3 separate regions of the Homo sapiens genome follow, and regions 2 and 3 are each linked to region 1. The links come from fine-mapping of genetic effects on gene expression. A gene starts in region 1. Each other region holds a variant in brackets. All regions are shown on one strand. Distances are between the middles of the regions. Region 1 holds the start of NAA38 (N-alpha-acetyltransferase 38, NatC auxiliary subunit). Region 2 overlaps KCNAB3 (potassium voltage-gated channel subfamily A regulatory beta subunit 3). Region 3 overlaps DNAH2 (dynein axonemal heavy chain 2).

Region 1 (4,000 bases):
GGCGTCGGCGCGCCCCGCAGCCGCGGCAAATCCGGGCCTCACCAGGGTCCCAGGCCGTTCCCACATCAGGAAAGGTCTGGGTCTAATGACCCTCGAGTCAAGAACAACCCTGACGGCTGCCCTCCCTCTTATTCGGCCCAAGGACTTGAAGCCCGGCATCTTCCGACCTGCCCTGCCCCCACCCCTGCCTGAGCGGAGTCCTAGCATCCCCTTGGGAGCAGCAGCGTCAGTGGACCCAGTGCTGAGAAAAGCCCCCACATCCCGGAAAACCCACTTTCCTTTCACGACCCACATCTCAATCCTGAACATCTAGGCTGGAACCTGCACACCTCCCCCTCAGCTCCGTCGTGAATGGGACAACAATCTCGTGCCCTCGTTTTATGGTGCAGCTTCTCTAGTATTTCTGGGGCTGGGGGGCGGGGCTGGAGGGGAAGGAGTGTCCACGCATCAATAAAGATTTAACGAACTGAACGCGCTCTGCGAACAGAGGCGTGGCACAAGTACTATCACCCCTGCCCTGTGCCGAGGAACAGGAAACATGTGCCAGGGCTACAAATGAGCAGAGAGGAGCATCCTTGAGCCCCCTGGCCTTATCGCTTTTGTCCGTTCTTCCTGGCCAGACCTCAGAGATCTGTTCCTGACCCCAGGCACCTCCCCCTCAATAGAGTGGAGGGGCCCAGCCTCGGCCGCCTGCCGCTGCTCCCCTTGGGGACCTGAGCCCGTTCTCTGACCCCAGCTTAGAGGAACTCGGTGTTGCCAGGCCGGGGTGGGAAACAATGGGCCTTCCGGAGCAGGATGACACCCCCTCCCGCCACAATTCTGGAGCAGCAGCCGTGGGAGGGAAGATGCAGGGGCCCACCCTGGGGCCTGTTGGTCCGTCATTCAGCCCTGCCCCCCATCTCTACCCCTGAACTTGAGAGAACCTTTGGCACCCCTGGACATCTTGGTTGGGAGAGGAGGGTTGAGGGTGCTCCCGACTTCAGATGAGCCCTTTCCTCTAGGGATGGGGTGTGCTATCCTGCACCGGCATCCCAGCTACACACAGACACAGGCCCATTCGGTCATAAGTTTAATGAAGTCTGAAAGGTAAGCGCCATCGTGGTCAGAGATACGGAGGCCCGGTCAGACTCTCCCTCTGCACCTCAATGGAAACGATGTGGTGTCCGGGTACCATGGCCAGGCCCAGCACACGGGGCTCCCCGGCAGAGAAGGAATCTGGAAAGAAGGATCAGAGCATCAGGAAAGTAGGCCAGAATCAGTCCCGCCCCTCTGAGCCACGAAAACGAGCCCCAGAAAACAAGGGTTGCAGCCAGGCCCTTAAGGGGAAATGCCTTGCGTAAGGTTCCGCCACATTACCAGGCGGGTGTGCATTCCCCGGGCACTGACCCGACGGCTTGAGGAACTCCTGCGCCGAGCCCAGGATGACATTGCAGTCACGGTCAGTGCAGAGGAAGCAGCCGACCAGTGTCCGTCCATCTGTCATGCGAATGCGCATAGTCTTGTTGAGCAGCGCCTCTAGCTGCTGTCGGGCGCGCTCAGCCGCCGAGTCCTCGCGCTCTCCGTCCGAATCCTGCGCGGGGTGTAACAAGCGCTCAGACCGCGCAGCCCAGGCTGCCCGCCCGCGGAACCACAGCTCCCGGCAGCCCGCGGGGCACTCACACAAAGCCCAGAGGCTGCCGGGAGCTGCAGTTCCCCACCCCCTCCATCTTGCTGCTTGACTGCCCCTCAGTCCCAGAACCAGAGCCCGTGCTAACCCCAGCACTGGAGCTGCTCTGACGCCGACTGCAACAGCCATTCTCTTCTCGTAGCAGCATGGTCGGTCCAGCTCCGGCCATTTGCCCGGAGGCCTCCTCTGGGCCTTTCAACTTCCTAAGCACCTTTCAGGTTGGGTGGTCCGAGATCTCGCGAGCGCTCCCGACCTCTTTCCTTTCGCGAGATCCCCTCTCCTCCCCCTCCTAGTCTCCTCGGCAACGGCACAGATCTCGCGAGCTTCTCCTACTTCTCTAGCGCTGTGGCTCACTGAAGCGTACTACGCCGGATGTCTTAAGATATCGCGAGACCTTTACCTCTGGTTTCTTACACATCCTTTAGAAACTGGAATTTAGCGAGAATACATTCTTTCATACTGCCTCCTCCCTTGTTTTTCTGTCTCAGAGAGATAGTCTGTCCTAAATATCCCATGTAGCCCAGGCCACTGAATTAAAACGGAGCGTATTCGTTCTCTGCCCCACCCCGCAACTCCTGAAAGCGGCGCAACTCAATTACTTGATCCTTATATGCCCCACGCGGGACTCATACTACGTTTCCCGTGAACACGTGCAGTCCAAACCCCGCCCCTGATATTTATCTCAGTGGACGGTGGCCGGAAAAGGACAATGGTTTCCATGTCAGCGGATAAACGCTCTCCCCTCGGCTCCCGGACGCGACGGAGGTCGTAGTAGTAGTGAGTACGTGCTGAGGAGCAAAGGAGTAACCAAGAGATCCAGTGACCGACAGAGCAAGAGCCATGCCGCGCCGGGGCCTGGTGGCTGGGCCAGACTTGGAGTATTTTCAGCGTCGCTATTTCACGCCGGCGGAGGTGGCCCAACATAACAGGCCCGAAGACCTCTGGGTATCTTACCTGGGACGCGTGTACGACCTAACGTCATTGGCACAGGAATACAAGGGTAAGGGCCACACGTTGGGCCGGGGCCGGAGTGTGTGTGTGTGCACGCGCGCGTTTGCCTGGTTCTCGAAGGGCTGGCATTGACAGTGGCTGTGCTGCTCTTTTCAAGGGAACCTGCTGCTGAAACCCATCGTGGAAGTTGCAGGCCAGGATATCAGCCACTGGTTTGATCCAAAGACCAGAGACGTGAGTTATGCTGGAACCTGGGATTGTGGGTAGAGGAAATGGAGAGCGGGGATGGGAAGGAAAGGCGGAGGCTAGCCAGAGCCTAATGGCTGCTCTGACACCCTCGCCCCAAACCCTCCTTTAAAGATCCGCAAGCACATAGATCCGCTGACCGGCTGCCTGAGGTACTGCACCCCGCGGGGCCGCTTTGTGCACGTTCCGCCTCAGCTGCCCTGTTCGGACTGGGCCAACGATTTTGGGAAGCCCTGGTGGCAGGGGTCGTATTATGAGGTGGGGCGGCTGTCTGCCAAGACCCGGAGCATCCGCATCATTAACACGCTCACGTCGCAGGAGCACACACTGGAGGTGAGAACTGGTGACAAGGAGCAGGTTAGAAGGAATGGGGAATCCCAGCAAATCTCCAGGCCGATCTTCAGGGCAACATTTTTTCCATAACCGGTGGGAGTGTATTTTCTGTCCTTTACATTGAGGCAACTGAGGAAAGCACAGCACCTAGGTCCCCAGGGTTGGGAATTCTAGGAGTGTCTGGGTCACAGGGGGACAAGAGACTCCTTTATAAGCCTGGGAACAGCAGTTCATGTATCTTAGTGATGGTGGTCCTTCGAAGCTCTTACACGCCGTTTTGGACAGCAATTGGACTTTCTTTTTAATCTACTCTGTTGCATGGATATAGTGAGGGGACAGTTGACCCTTTATGGCCATCCGGTAGTTAGAAGTGGCTGCCATTAAGATCTGTAGGACTTTAGGGTCTGCTCATTGCATGCTGGAGTTTCAGCTTTTTTTTCCCGGGGCCGTAGAGTACCTGAAGCTGCTATCTGCCAAGGGAGGCACTTTGATCCCAGCGTGTGTATATGTATACTCCATCCAGAATTCTGGGGGTGGGGTGCTTCTGTGTTCTCCAGGTGGGGGTTCTGGAGTCCATATGGGAAATCCTACACCGCTATCTCCCCTATAACTCACATGCTGCCAGCTACACGTGGAAATATGAAGGGAAGAACCTGAACATGGATTTTACCCTGGAAGAGAATGGGATCCGGGATGAGGAGGAAGAATTTGACTATCTCAGTATGGACGGTACACTTCACACACCTGCAATACTTCTGTACTTCAATGATGATCTCACGGAGTTGTAGGCAAGGAGATGTACAC
Region 2 (4,229 bases), 64 kb after region 1:
TGGGAGGCCAAGATGGAAGGATAACTTGAGCTCGGGAATTTGAGATCAGCCTGGGAATCGTGGTGAGACCCCATCATTACAAAAAAAAAGAAAAAAGCCAGGCTCAGTGGTGCACATCGTCCCAGCTACTCAGTAGGCTGAGGTGGGAGGATCACTTGAGCCTCAGGACTTCGAAGCTGCACTGAGCCGTGATCATGTCAGTGCACTCCAGCCTGGGTGACAGAGCGAGACCCCCGCCTCTTAAAAATAAATAAAAAGTGGCTGGGCGCGGTGGCTCACGCCTGTAATCCCAGCACTTTGGGAGGCTGAGGCAGGCAGATCACAAGATCAGGAGATCAAGACCCTCCTGGACAACAAGGTGAAATCCCGTCTCTACTAAAAAAACAAAAATTAGCTGGGCGTGGTGGCACGTATCTGTAATCCCAGCTACTGGGGAGGCTGAGGCAGGAGAATCGCTTGAACTAGGGAGTCGGAGGTTGCAGTGAGCCAAGATCGCCACTGCACTCCAGTCTGGCGACAGAGCGAGACTCCATCTCTAAATAAATAAATAAATAAATAAATAAATAAATAGTGGCTGGGTGTGGTGGCTCACGCCTGTAATCCCAGCACTTTGGGAGGCCGAGGCAGGTGGATCACCAGGAGTTCAAGACCAGCCTGGCCAAGATGGTGAAACCCTGTCTCTACTAAAAATACAAAAAATTAGTTGAGCATGGTGGCACTCGCCTGTAGTCCCAGCTACTCAGGAGGGTGAGGCAGGAGAATCGCTTGAACCCGGGAGAGGGAGGTTGCAATGAGCTGAGATCATGCAACTGTACTCCAGCCTGAGTGACAGAGCGAGACTCCATCTCAAATAAAATAAAATAAAAATAAATAAAAAGTTATCTCAGGCCATTAACTTTGGTGGTGATTTGTTGTGTATCAATAGATAACGGATATAGAGGGTTTCCTACTGTTTTTTTTTCCCTGTATGATAAATATATTTTTTGAGACAGGAGCTTGCTCTGAGCATCAGGCTGGAGTGTAGTGGCATAATCTTGGCTCACTACAGCCTTGATCTCCCAGACTCAAGCCACCTACCTACCTCAGGCTCCGAGTAGCTGGGACTACACAGGTATGAGCTACCATGCTCAGCTAATTCTTGTATTTTTGTAGAGATGGGGTCTCCCCATGTTGTCCAGGCTGGTCTTGAACCCCTGGGCTCAAGTGATCCCACCTGCCTTGGCCTCCCAAAGTGCTTGGATTACAGGTGTGAGCCACTGCGCCCAGCCTAGATAAATATAACATTGTAATGTGCCCTGTAAGTCCCTGTGTGTTCTGAACTTACCCCTTCCTTCCTTCCTTCCTTCCAGACAGAGTCTTGCTCCGTCGCCCAGGCTGGAATGCAGTGGTGCAATCTCAGCTCATTGCAACCTCTGCCTCCTGGGCTCAAGTGATTCTCCTGCCTCAGCCTTCTGAGTAGCTGGGACTACAGGTGGGTGTCACCATGCCTGGCTAATTTTTATTTTTATTTTTATTTTTTATTTTTAGTAGAGATAGGTTTTCGCCATGTTGGCCAGGCTGGTCTCAAACTCCTGACCTCAAGTGATCCACCAGCCTCAGCCTCCCAAAGTACTGGGATTACAGGCGTGAGCCACCGCACCCAGCCATTACCCATGTCTCACTTTCTGTTCTGTTCCTCTCTAGACACTCTGGCTTTGGGTACTTTTGGCTTGTATGTTCTTTTCTGCCACAGGCCTTAGCATATGCTCTTAACCCTCTTGCTTAACCCTTATTAACACCTATTCATGCTTCAGCTCTCAGCGTAACCTCACCATGTCAAATAACCACTACAGACTCAGTAATACCATGTGCTTTCCTCTGGACTTTGGACAAGAAGTTTGTATTTATTTGGTGGTTCTGTGATTGTCTCTCTCCTCAGCAAGATATATGAAGGTTCTGAGTCTGGTTTTGTTCACCCTTGTATCCCTGTGCTATACCATAATAGGACTCAATAGACAAATACTTGCTAAATTAATGAATGAGGTGGGTGATAAATATGGCAAATGTCCATATACAAAGGAGGCGTGACAATAAAGGAAGGCTTTTTTTTTTGTT[T/G]TTTTTTTTTTAAATCAAGGCGTTTCCAAACTCTCTCTGAAGGTAATTCTAGGAGGAATGGTGTTTGTTTGTTTTTAATATTTTGAGCAATGGGACAGGTTCATTAAAATAAGTGTATAACCCTCTAAGATAACTATTTAAGGAGAATCCTATTTGGGATTGATAAATTCTCGTATGTTACAGAATAACTAATCATAGTTTAGTAATATATTTTACTTCTTTGTTTCCTCCACAGTCTTGCAAAATGAGTGGGAGATGATGGGGTGGATTTAAGTATTAATTAGTTGATGCAGTTGGCTGCTAATCCAGTAAATGGCATGCTGCTGACTTTTCTCTTTTGGAAATTGGTTTTACTTTGCTTGCCCAGCTTTTGGATCAAGGCGGGATGAGGACGGGTAGAAGGGAGATGGGCAGGTTGTATTTAAGGAAGGCAGAGCTCATCCTCCTCTACCTTGTGATCTTTAAGGTTGTAACTTTCCACCCAATTCTGTTCCAGTGAAATGATAACATCTTTCCTTCTCTCTGTATTCCCTCAACCTCAGACCATTCTTCACTTTACCTCTCCACCAAATCACAAAGCCTCAACCTCAGAACAGCATCTCCCCCTCAGCCACAGGTTCCTTGGCATATGTGTGGGTGTCCAGCGAGAGAGAAATGAGAAGTACAAGGAACAAGTATGGCTAATATTACTTTAAATACAAACAAATAAAGGCAGATAGCTAAGTCTTTCATAGAAAGAGGAGGAACAAAATTATGAAGCCAGATTTCTGGGTTCTAAGGAATGTGGTAGCTGAAGGAAGAAAACTGGGGCCTGGGGTATCTGGTGTCTTGGTCCTTGATGAGAACAGTGACTAGGAGCCCGATGCCTGGGTCACCAAGGTGAATGAGCAATGGAGAGAAAGCTAATGCTAGCAGATTTCTAATGTTAGGGGGCGAGAGGGCCAGACAAGTGAGACTGTGACCCTAACCTCCCAAGCCCCTGCAACTTTAGACACTGTGAGGATCAAGCTGAGGTTTATTTACAGTTACCTGGGAAGTCTTACAGAGAAGGGGCCATCATTATTGCTTTAGGTTTATTGCCAGGAGGAAGACTGCAGTTCCCCACTGCCAGGTAGGAGGCCCTGCTCAAGGCTCAAAAGTCTATACCCAGACGTTTTATTTATTTATTTTTTTTAAATCAAGGCGTCCCTGCCCGTGACGGAAAGGCTGTCACTAATTCCTGCCAAGAACAGCCCAACTGTTTTCCAAGGACCACCCCGGCCACTTTCACCAGACTGCAGCGTAGATGTGCTATTACATTTCCCTCTACCTTTGTCAGTGCTGTGCCACTGTAGACCCCACCCTGACCGCCCTCCTCCACCTCTGGGCTGGGAGGCAGGGTCCTGGTTTCCCAAAGATTATCATTTACTTCCTGCCAGGACCAGCCTGGCTTCCTTCGTACCGAATACGCTAAGAGCCCCATTTCCTATGTTCCAGATGACATCACAACTCACTCACTAGGTTATTACCCTTTGATGACATTTCAAGGGCCCCTTTTGAGGTACACTGTATGTTTCTTGTATGTGCTGGGTTTTTGTTTTTGTTTTCTTTTCTGGGCCTCGGGAATAAGGGGAGGAGAGTAGGGAGCGAGACGAAGTGGCAGAGAGCCGACGGCGAGTAGCTCATGCCCGGGATTTGCAAGAAGGGCCTAGAAAGACGCAGCAGGGGGCGGGCGTGCTACTTTCTCTCTCGACCCCACTGCAAAAGGATATGGCTTTGTTCATGCGTATCACTACTCGAAGCCGGGACTCGTTGGTGGGCGGGGCTAGTCTGGCTCCGGCCGCTGCGTGGAGGGATCCGGAGCGGGAGAGGCGGCTGCGAGGAGCGGGGCTCGGGCGGGTGCAGCGACACCGGGTTGGGTCCCTGCGCCCGCGACAGACTACTTCTTGGAATGCGGCTTGTTTCCCAGGAGCCCGTCTATTTCCATCACTGTCTGCGGGGTCAGCTGGCTCAGCACCTGGAGGAGAGTGGGACGGTGGCGACGGCAGCCCATGCTGGGTCACTGAGAAAGGGCATGGGGTTCCAGTAGCCGGGGAAGCACCACAGTGGGGTCAAGTGGCAAGGCAAGAGCCGCAGCTGTGCCGGTGCCTCGCTTT
Region 3 (4,000 bases), 32 kb before region 1:
CCCTGCGCCAGGACCGCGTGGCCTTCTGCGTGACCTCCTTCATCATCACCAACCTTGGCTCCCGCTTCATCGAGCCGCCTGTGCTGAATATGAAGTCGGTCGGTGGCTCGGCTTCCTTGTCCCCACGGCCCATGGGTCTTTCCTGCCTCCCTCGCTCTGTTTCAGTCTCCTTCATCTCTCTCTCCCACTTTGGTCATGTGGCCTTCTGCCTGATGCTATACCTGTGCTTCTGGCAGGTGCTGGAGGATTCAACCCCACGATCCCCACTCGTGTTCATCCTGTCCCCTGGTGTGGACCCCACCAGTGCCCTGCTGCAGCTGGCAGAGCACATGGGCATGGCCCAGCGCTTCCACGCCCTGTCCCTGGGCCAGGGCCAGGCCCCCATCGCTGCTCGGCTCCTCCGAGAGGGTGTGACTCAGGGTTGGTGTCCATCCTTTCTTCCACCCCCATCTTCAGCCCAGTCCTTGTCCCTAGAACCTCCAACCTCAATTACACTACTGTCCCTGTACCTCCCACTTCTACAGAGGGCCCCAGAAGTGGCAGATCTTAGTGTTAGGCCCCCCCAGCACCCCCACCCCAACACCAGGTGGAAAGCATGAGGACAGGCAGGGCTTAGGAAATGATTCCCACTGACCCTGGCATCTCCTTGCAGGACACTGGGTGTTCCTGGCAAACTGCCACCTGTCACTGTCTTGGATGCCTAATCTGGACAAGCTGGTGGAGCAGCTGCAGGTGGAGGATCCTCATCCATCCTTCCGCCTCTGGCTCAGCTCCATCCCCCACCCAGACTTCCCTATCTCAATCTTGCAGGTCAGCATCAAGATGACCACAGAGCCACCAAAGGTATGTGGCCATAGAGAACCAGCATCATCAGGGCCATCTGGTCCACCTTACCTCCTGCTAGCACCAGAGAGAGGGCTTAACCAACAACAACATGATTTGATTGTCCTCAAAAAATTCCACCTCATTCCTCTCCTGTTTGTGCCAAACTCCTAGAACACAATAATAAGAGCTAACATTTCTTGAGTGATTATCATGTGCCACGCACTGTTCTAAGTTCTTTACATTTATTAACTCGTTTAATATGGGTGTGTGCACACACACACCCTATAAGGTGAATACTGTTACCCCCATTTTAAAGATAGGAAATGAGATACAGAAAGAGTAAATAAGTATTCCAGAGCCAGAGTTTGGGTAGTTGGGTCCCCAAATTCATTCTTTTATACCTCAGAACCTTCCTGCCTCCCATCATTTCCTTACATCCTCTTCCGAATGTCACACTTCCTGCCTCTTTGCCTTTCCTTTCCTCCGACTCTACTGAAATTTTTATCTCCAATATCACAAGCTCATCACCAAATGCAATCATCACCACCCTCTAAAATCTGCCGTGTCACTGCGCTTCACCCACTCACCCCTGCTTAAACTATTTTAGTAGCTTTTCATTGCGCTTAGTTGAGATCAAAATCCTTTTTGCTCACCCTGTGAAAAGCACATGGACCAGTATGTATCATCCTCAACAGATAAGAGCTGTTTGAATCACGCATGGGTGCCTTTCATCATTATTAATCCTCCTTGGCCACTTGGGGCAGCTGTCACAGTCGACTGTCCCTTTCCCTGGCTCCCTGACACATCACTCCTGCTTTCCCCGCTGTCTTTTGACATATCATTTATTACTTCGGTGTTTCTTTTTCCTCTGCCTGTGACCAGATTGCAATACTTACTCCTTAACCTAAGGACTAAGAGGGGAGGGCCAAAGAGGGGAGGGACCCTTGGTCCTGGCCCAGCGTTTCTCATTCTACTTTCTCCTTTCACAAGTTGTTGGAGAAATTGTCCTTTTCATGATTTCAACTCTAATCCCATCTCTGGCATCAGCCCCAAAGTCAGTGCCAGCTCTGAATTGCCATCAGATTACAAAGCACTTCTTGGCACACCAGCACCATAATAGCAACTCGTTTCACACTTTTTTGTCCCAACCCCCAAG[A/G]CTCAGAATGTGATTACGTTTAGAGGCAGGATATTTTTTTAGAAAGCGTCTTGGCCAGGCATGGTGGCTCAGGCCGGGTGTGATGGCTCACACCTGTAATCCTAGCATTTGGGGAGGCTGAAGCAGGTGGATCACCTGAGCTCAGGAAGGTTAGATATGGAGTTCAGGTATGATAACCCTGGCTAGAGGTGGAGGTTGCAGGGAGCTGAGATTGCGCTGTTACACTGCAGCCTGGGCTCCGCCTCCCAGGTTCAAGCAGTTCTCCTACCTCAGCCACCTGAGTAGCTGGGACTACAGGTGTGCGCCACTACGCCCTACTAATTTTTGCATTTTTAGTAGAGACAGGGTTTCACCATGGTGGCCAGGCTGGTCTCGAACTCCTGACCTCAGGTGATCCACCCACCTTGGCTTCCCAAAGTGCTGGGATTACAGGGATTACAGGTGTGAGCCACCGTGCCCAGCCTGAGTTTTACTTCAAATAAGAAAGTCCCTGTATTCACAGCCCCCAGTTGCCAGTTTGGGATATAGTCCTGGAGTATATTCCTGGGTCACTTCCTGCTATCCAGTCTTTTAAAAAAGCTAGATATTAAGTAGGTACAAAAGAAGATTTATAAAATATATGCAAGTTATAAAGGATCATGATTCCTTGAATATCTGTGTGCCCATCATCTTTTTTTTTTTTTTTTTTTTTTGAGATGGAGCCTCACTCTGTCGCCCAGGCTGGAGCGCAGTGGCGCCATCTCGGCTCACTGAAACATCCGCCTCCCAGATTCAAGCGATTCTCCTGCCTCAGCCTCCGAGTAGCTGGGATTACAGGTGCCCGCCACCACACCTGGCTAATTTTTGTATTTTTAGTAGAGATGGAGTTTCACCATGTTGGCCAGGCTGGTCTTGAACTCCTGACCTCAGGCAATCTGCCTACTCTCGGCCTCCCAAAGTGCTGGGATTACAGGCATGAGTCACCGCACCCGGCCCATCATCCTTTTAAGAAAGAAAAATCCCAGCATTTTCTTTGAAGTCCCAGTGTGCCTCTTCCCAATCTCATCACTTTCCCTCCCCACTCAGAGGAAACCACTCTTCTGAATCTTGTATTTGTCATTTTCTTTATAATGTTTTTCTTTTCCTCTGGAGTTAGGGATTCTTTTTCATTGTAATGCAAAAGTTTGTATTGCTAATGCAACCATTGCTATATATGTTTCTCTGCAACTTGCTTTTTTCATTCAACATTATGTGCTTGACATTCATTCATGATGTTCTTCGCGTTTTGTAGTTCTTCATATATTCCAGATCCTAATCCTTTGTCAGTTATGTGTTTTGTGGTTTGTCTCTTCTCTTTTATGCTGTTTTTTGGTGAAGAGAAATTCTTAATTTTTATGAGGTTGAATTTAGCTATCTTTCCTTTTTTAAATGGTTTGTGCTCCTTTGTCTTGTTCAAGAAATCCTTGCTTAAAGATTGTAAAAGTACTCTCCTATACTTGCCTTCCAAAAAATTTATAATTTGACTTTCACATTTAAGTTTTTAATCACTTGGAATTCATTTTTGTGACTGTGGTATGAGGTAGAGGTCCAATTTTCTTTGGTTTTGTTTTGCTTTTTTTGAGACAGAGTCTTGCTCTGTCACCCAGGCTAGAGTGCAGTGGCGTGATCTCGGCTCACTGCAACCTCTGCCTCCCAGGTTCAAGCGATTCTCCTGCCTCAGTCTCCTGAGTAGCTGAGATTACAGGCACCTGCCACCCTACCCAGCTAATTTTGTTATTTTTTGTAGAGACGGGGTTTCACCATGTTGACCAGGCTGGTCTCGAACTTCTGACCTCAGGTGATCCACCCGCCTCAGCCTTCCAAACTGTTGGGATTACACGCATCAGCCACTGCGCCCAGCCAATTTTTTTTTTCTACATGGATAACCAATTCTCCCAGTACCACTTCTCAAATACTGCGAAAGTACTTTTCTGATCTGTAGTGCCTGCTCAGCCTTCAATCATGTTTCCATATATGTATGGGTTTCAGGGTCCTTTATTC

What was found.
Region 2: its variant is fine-mapped to the expression of NAA38 in whole blood (INTERVAL, PIP 0.95).
Region 3: its variant is fine-mapped to the expression of NAA38 in whole blood (TOPMed, PIP above 0.99).

Annotation. Positions count from the first base shown.
Region 1 is chr17:7,855,629-7,859,628 of GRCh38, forward strand. NAA38 (N-alpha-acetyltransferase 38, NatC auxiliary subunit) reads right to left here and starts at 1,931. Exons shown (of 3, transcript NM_001320925.4): 1 at 1,755-1,931; 2 at 1,387-1,570; 3 at 1,057-1,215. The coding sequence starts at 1,835. The coding sequence ends at 1,103. TMEM88 (transmembrane protein 88) reads left to right here. Exons shown (of 2, transcript NM_203411.2): 2 at 1-471. The coding sequence ends at 86. CYB5D1 (cytochrome b5 domain containing 1) reads left to right here and starts at 2,375. Exons shown (of 4, transcript NM_144607.6): 1 at 2,375-2,666; 2 at 2,775-2,851; 3 at 2,978-3,196; 4 at 3,754-4,000. The coding sequence starts at 2,507. The coding sequence ends at 3,984. RefSeq lists enhancers at 357-894, 1,016-1,095, 1,628-2,490, 1,746-2,115, 1,843-2,137 and 2 more.
Region 2 is chr17:7,919,090-7,923,318 of GRCh38, forward strand. KCNAB3 (potassium voltage-gated channel subfamily A regulatory beta subunit 3) reads right to left here. Exons shown (of 14, transcript NM_004732.4): 14 at 2,770-4,090. The coding sequence ends at 4,013. Among named protein-coding and RNA genes, the nearest start is that of RNF227, 4.9 kb to the left of the region's middle. The variant T/G (reference allele first, on the strand shown) is at 2,095.
Region 3 is chr17:7,823,885-7,827,884 of GRCh38, forward strand. DNAH2 (dynein axonemal heavy chain 2) reads left to right here. Exons shown (of 86, transcript NM_020877.5): 75 at 1-98; 76 at 237-420; 77 at 653-843. Among named protein-coding and RNA genes, the nearest start is that of KDM6B, 8.3 kb to the right of the region's middle. The variant A/G (reference allele first, on the strand shown) is at 1,982.